Regions from separate parts of the Homo sapiens genome. Here region 1 is linked to region 2. Evidence: fine-mapped expression QTL. A gene starts in region 2. The other region holds a variant in brackets. All regions are shown on one strand. Distances are between the middles of the regions.

Region 1 (2,787 bases), 28 kb before region 2:
ATACGAATTCACACCCAACAGAATGGCTTTAATAACTTTAAAAAGACAATAACAAGTGTTGACAAGGATGCAGATACTGGAACTCTTATACACTGCTGGTAGACATGTAAAATGGTACAGCCACTTTAGAGAACAGTTTGGCAGTTTCTCAAATGGTTAAATACAGAGTCACCATCAACTGCTCCTGCTCCTCTGATCCCTGTGGTAAGGCTTCACACATACCTGGTTCTTAAAATGGCCAACAAGTATCAAGTCAGGTCTACCTCCCATGGTCTCCATGCTCCTCTCTGAGGCCATCTCTTCCCTAATTCCAAACCCTCGGAACTGTATTTCATCCACTAAAACACTGGTTTTTGCTCTTCACTAGTTCTTCCCTGACAGGTGCAAAGTCTTCTGATTTTTCTCCTTGTTTCCTACACATTCTTCCTCCACAAAATCCATGGGCTCTTGTCCATGAGAGCAGCTCCTGTGACAACACCAAGTTCAAAGTCCTCTCTTTTTCCACCTAGAAGTAAACTAATCACCTCATGAAAGGGTAACTAACTTCTGCTGTAGATAAAGACATATCCATCCTTCCTATCTGAAACACCATTAGCCACAGACCAGCATGCCTAAATGCCTAAACAGGTGAGAAACTAAAGAAAAGGTGGTATCTGAAATCTCAGATGACAAAATGTTACAAAGTAGGCTTTTTTTGAAGGGAGGAAATCTCCAAAAAAGTGCAGCAGTCCACCGAGGGCAATGTGGTCCTGATCCCTTAGACGAGTGCAAGATTACACTCTTCTTCTAGGCAGATGTCTCAGTTCCCAAATGGGGACACTGAAGTATCAGACCTTACTGCAGACCAGGATGAAGCAATAAAACTTACGACTAACTGGCCTCTGAAGCTTAGCCTGTCCAGGGCAGTGGTGGGAAGTTCCCATGAGATGCCTGTTCATTATGTCCAGAGGCACGGATCTTGCTTAAAGTCAATGCCTTTCCAACTAGCCCCTCAAACAAACTTTCAACTTAAAGTTAGCAAAGAAAAAAGATGACCACTTTGTCCAACAGAGTAGGACTCACAGGACTCCTGACTCGTGATACCTAACCATCAGCTATTGAGAAACTTCATAACCACATATGGACAGACTCATGCCTGCCTATCGGAACACCATGCATCACACACACTCCCAGGACCTGACATGCATAGGCGTATAACCCAGAGCATATATTCACCTTCTCTAACCGGACTATACTTCGCATCTATCCTGAGACTTGGCTGAGGGAGAGGAAAAGAAACAGGAGGCAAAGAAAACAAGACCAGCCACTCAGGCACCACCCTTGGCCGATACAGTCCCATGGTGCTAGACAATAAGCGACATCTCTTGCTGTAACCACAGGCAAGCTAATCCTCCACCTGAGGCCTCCTTTTCTTCATGTGTAAAATAAGGGACCCAAGGTTCATTGCAGCTAGCTGTAATACTCCTGACTCTCAGGCCTCTACCAGTTCTCTACAGACAGGTTGCTTTCTGTGAGAAACAGAACCAGCAGAGAGAGGCCTGGTAGAGTGAGAAGCAGGATGCAGAACAAAATCAAGGA[T/C]TGACTTCCAGAAAGGGACATGGGGTTCATATTCTGATCACCCAGTTTCCCTAGAAATGTTGTCAGATGACCCCTGGGACAGCAGGAAGACCGAGTAACAAACTGGGCTGGATTGTTGGCCCGAAGCAGCTCCTAGAGGTCTGGGCATTATACCACTGGTACTCGCTATCCTGGCAGGACCCTCACTAACACCAGTGATGACAGTGAAAACAGTAACCTGCCCAAGACCAAGAAACCACAGAGACCTCAATTTACACATGCACTTTCCTAAATGACAGGTCAAGATCTAAAACCCTAGCTCAGATTACGGTTCATCGATCTCCACCCAAAGGCACCTTCAGCTCCTCTGCCAAAGCAATGCAAAGTCTTGCTGGCCCTCTTTGTCATCGCTTGGTCTTGTGAGCAATTTCAAGCACTCACAAGTGAACCTAAAGAACTGAAATCCACAGGAAACCCAAGCTTGATCCTCCTTATTCCAAAATTCTAGTTAGTGAAGTTGGTGTTTCGGGTCCTTTTACTTCCTCTGCTCATTCCTAGTGTGGGGATTCATAAAGAAATGGTCAGAAGGCAAAGAGCAAGTGGTTGGAAGAGGGAGAATAAAGACCCTGAACAAACACCACATAAACAGTCTTCCAGCTTAAACTGTCAGGATCCAACTTCCTGGCAGGGGCTGTTGAACAATCTCAAAGCACCCTAAGGACCCAGGGGACCTATCTCTCCTATCTAGGACCATAATCACTATGCATCATCACAACATTGCAGCCACACAACAGATAAGTCAACATCTTTAAAATGATCACCTTCAAAAACTATGGGAAGACATATTATTTCTACTATGAATAGTCCCTCCTTATAACCAGGCATCCTCTTCTCTCAAATGGTTAATAGCCATTCTTTCTTCTCCCTAACCCAGAGAGACCCAGGTGAAGTGTCTGGTTCAAGGAAGCCTGTGCTTCTCCAGTTGATACATCTTGTTCAAGAGGGAAAAAAAAGGAAACCCAGGGTGGAGTTCTACATTCAAAGGTAAGGAGGCCTGGAGGATGGAAGAATTTGAGCAGCCACAACAACCAAACGATCAGAAAGAGAGGACTATTTGGGCAGACCACTGCTACTTGACAGAGCTGGCAGCCGGCTGTAAGGAACAAGGGGGAATATACACCCTCACAAACAGGATGAGGGGGGAGGAGGAGAAGCAGGGATGAAAGCGAC
Region 2 (2,787 bases):
AGTGGATAGCTCCAGTCTAGTGGCTAGAGGCCAGTGATGCTGCTAAACATTCTACAATGCACAGGACAGCCCAACTACCACCACTACCACACACCCCCAAAGAATTATCTAGGCCAAACTGTCAAGAGCGCTAATGTTGAGAAACCCTGGATTAGAGCTTTCCTGTCCTTAAATGCAGTTATGTGAAGAATACACTAAATTGGATGAAACTAGATGGAGTCCTGGCACTCACTGTGATTGAGAACACATGACAAACTAATAGGTTTACTGGGCAGGCGGCTAAGCTGATCTACTTGCTGGTTCAATTAGCTCCACTTTCCGGAGGCTAGCATTTTCCCAACCTTGCCCCATGCTCTTGTGGGTACATTTACCCTATTTGGGGCCTTAGCGCTTTACAAATGAACGTTTCAGTTTAAGAGACATTGCCACATAACTTATATTAAGTGGTATGAATTCAAAAGCAAGCTCTGCCACTACAGATCAGAATCCAGCACTGAAGGAGGTGTGGAAGTCAGAAAGATGGACAGGAAGATCCCTTCAGGCTTAAAAAGGACCCCAGGGCCGGGCGCTGTGGCTAACCCTTGTAATCCTAGCACTCTGGGAGGCCGAGGCGGGCGGATCACTTGAGGTCGGCAGATCGAGACCAGCCTGACCAACATGGAGAAACCCTGTCTCTACTAAAAATACAAAATTAGCCGGGTGTGGTGGCGCATGCCTGTAATCCCAGCTACTCGGGAGGCTGAGGCAGGAGAATCGCTTGAACCCAGGAGGGAAAGGTTGCGGTCAGCCGAGATCGCGCCATGGCACTCCAGCCTGGGCAACAAGAAACTCCGTCTCAAAAAAATAAAAAATAAAAAACGACCCCAGGGCATGGCTTAGGGTAGGGAGAATGGGGCACAAACCACCCCTACTTCAGTCCAGGACATGACTCTGAACTCTCACCCAAGGAAGAGAGGTGTGTGGCAAGACAAGATATACAAAACAAAGTGTGGTGACACGTCCTCCATATCTACCTCCTTTCCTAGCCATGGCTCCATCCGCCCCCTCCCCGGTCTTCCCAGAATTTACAGCCGGTAGAGCCGCAGTCAACAAACACGCAAACACCACCTGTCACTGTTCGCGACACACCTCGGACTTTCCCAAATCTCAGTCCCACCCCTCCATTGCCCTAAGGATCCATCCCCTCTTCAGGGCAACGGCCTCCTCCCGGCGAAAGCAAAGCTGCGTTGCCATGGTTATCCACTCCTTCCTCTACCCCCACCCCCTGCCAATTTCCGTCCCGGCCTCAGTCCTCCCCCGCCCAGGCCTCCCTCCACTCACCAGGTCTCCGCCCCCCATGACGGTGGAGACGATTCCTCACTACGCGGATCTGGAAGATTTCGGGAGGATCAAGAGAAAACGTAGAGAAATAGTTCGGGGGCTACCTCGCGGGATCTAGTCCCAGGAGCCGTCAACTGCCAGTTTCACCACCGCTCTAGAGGTCACTTCCGGGAGGGCGTCATCTCACCGCGTCGGCGTCGCGGAACGATGACGTACAGGGCTCGGTCGCGCTTTGTGACGTTGGCGTTACTTGCAGATTTTGCAAAGGTCCGGGCTCCGCTGTCGAGGCCTTTGCTGTCGAGGTCTCATTTTGGCTGCTTCGGGTCGCCACGTTGCCTGATGTCCCAGACTCTCTGTTGAAACGCCACAACTCTGTTCAGTGATGGGTTGCCGTGGGCCTGTGCCCACGGCTGTGTTGCCATGGCAGCTCACCAGGGCATTCGGCTCAAAGCTCCACGTAGTCTCTGCTAGACCTAAGGTGGACCAGACTAGGCCTCCTCCCCTCACCCTGCACACACCCCCACGCTCCAGTTTTCCAAAACGGCTTTGCAAACTGGCGCTTTCCTCAGACCTTGACTCACAGCAAATCCCCTTATGCCAGGCCTATTTTACGAAGCTAAATAGAAACCATCAAATCGAAATTCCATCAGCTTCCGTTTGCCAAACTTTTAAAATCTGCCAGCTTCCACAGTGGCAGATTTTCCCATAGTGGGAAGCTGGCAGATTCCTTTCCCTTCAGTTACTATGTGTTTTTGGCATGTTTTTCTTTTTTCTTTTTCTTTTTCTTCTTCTCCCTTTGTTTTTGTTTTTTGAGAAGGAGTTTTGCTCTCCCAGGCTGCGGTCGAAGCTGACTGCAACCTCCGCCTCCCGGACAGCAATTCTCCTGCCTCAGCCTCCCAAGTCGCTGGGATTACAGGCGCCCGCCACCCGCCCGGCTAATTTTTGTATTTTTTGTAGAGACAGGGTTTCACCATGTTGCTCAGGCTTGTCTCGAATTTCGACCTCAAGTGATCTCCCCGCCTCAGCCTCCCAAAGTGTTGGGATTACAGACATAAGCCACCGCGCCTGGCTATTTTTATTTTTGTAGCAACAGGGTTTTGCCATCTTACCCAGGCTTGTCTCAAACTCCTGGACTCAAGCAATCCTCCTACCTCGGCCTCCTAAAGTGCTGGGATTACAGGTGTGAGCCACTGCGCCCGACCTGTTTTGTAATTTTCAGAATAGAAGTTTTGCACATCTTTTGTTAAATTTATTCTAAATGTTGTATTTTTTGTGATGCTATTTTATTTATTTATTTATTTATTTATTTATTTATTTATTTATTTATTTATTTATTTATTTCGAGACGGAATCTCACTCTGTTGCCCAGGCTGGAGTACAGTGGCGCAATACCAGCTCACTGCAACCTCCGCCTCCTGGGTTCAAGCGATTCTCCTGCCTCAGCCTCCCGAGTAGCTGGGATTACAG

The links.
Region 1: its variant is fine-mapped to the expression of CWC25 in lung (TOPMed, PIP above 0.99).

The regions. Positions count from the first base shown.
Region 1 is chr17:38,796,170-38,798,956 of GRCh38, forward strand. The region is part of intron 1 of PIP4K2B (phosphatidylinositol-5-phosphate 4-kinase type 2 beta); the gene reads right to left. Among named protein-coding and RNA genes, the nearest start is that of PIP4K2B, 2.0 kb to the right of the region's middle. RefSeq lists an enhancer at 2,564-2,787. The variant T/C (reference allele first, on the strand shown) is at 1,579.
Region 2 is chr17:38,823,846-38,826,632 of GRCh38, forward strand. CWC25 (CWC25 spliceosome associated protein) reads right to left here and starts at 1,476. Exons shown (of 10, transcript NM_017748.5): 1 at 1,321-1,476. The coding sequence starts at 1,338. It overlaps MIR4727 (microRNA 4727), which reads left to right and starts at 1,993; the gene lies at 1,993-2,047. RefSeq lists an enhancer at 184-815.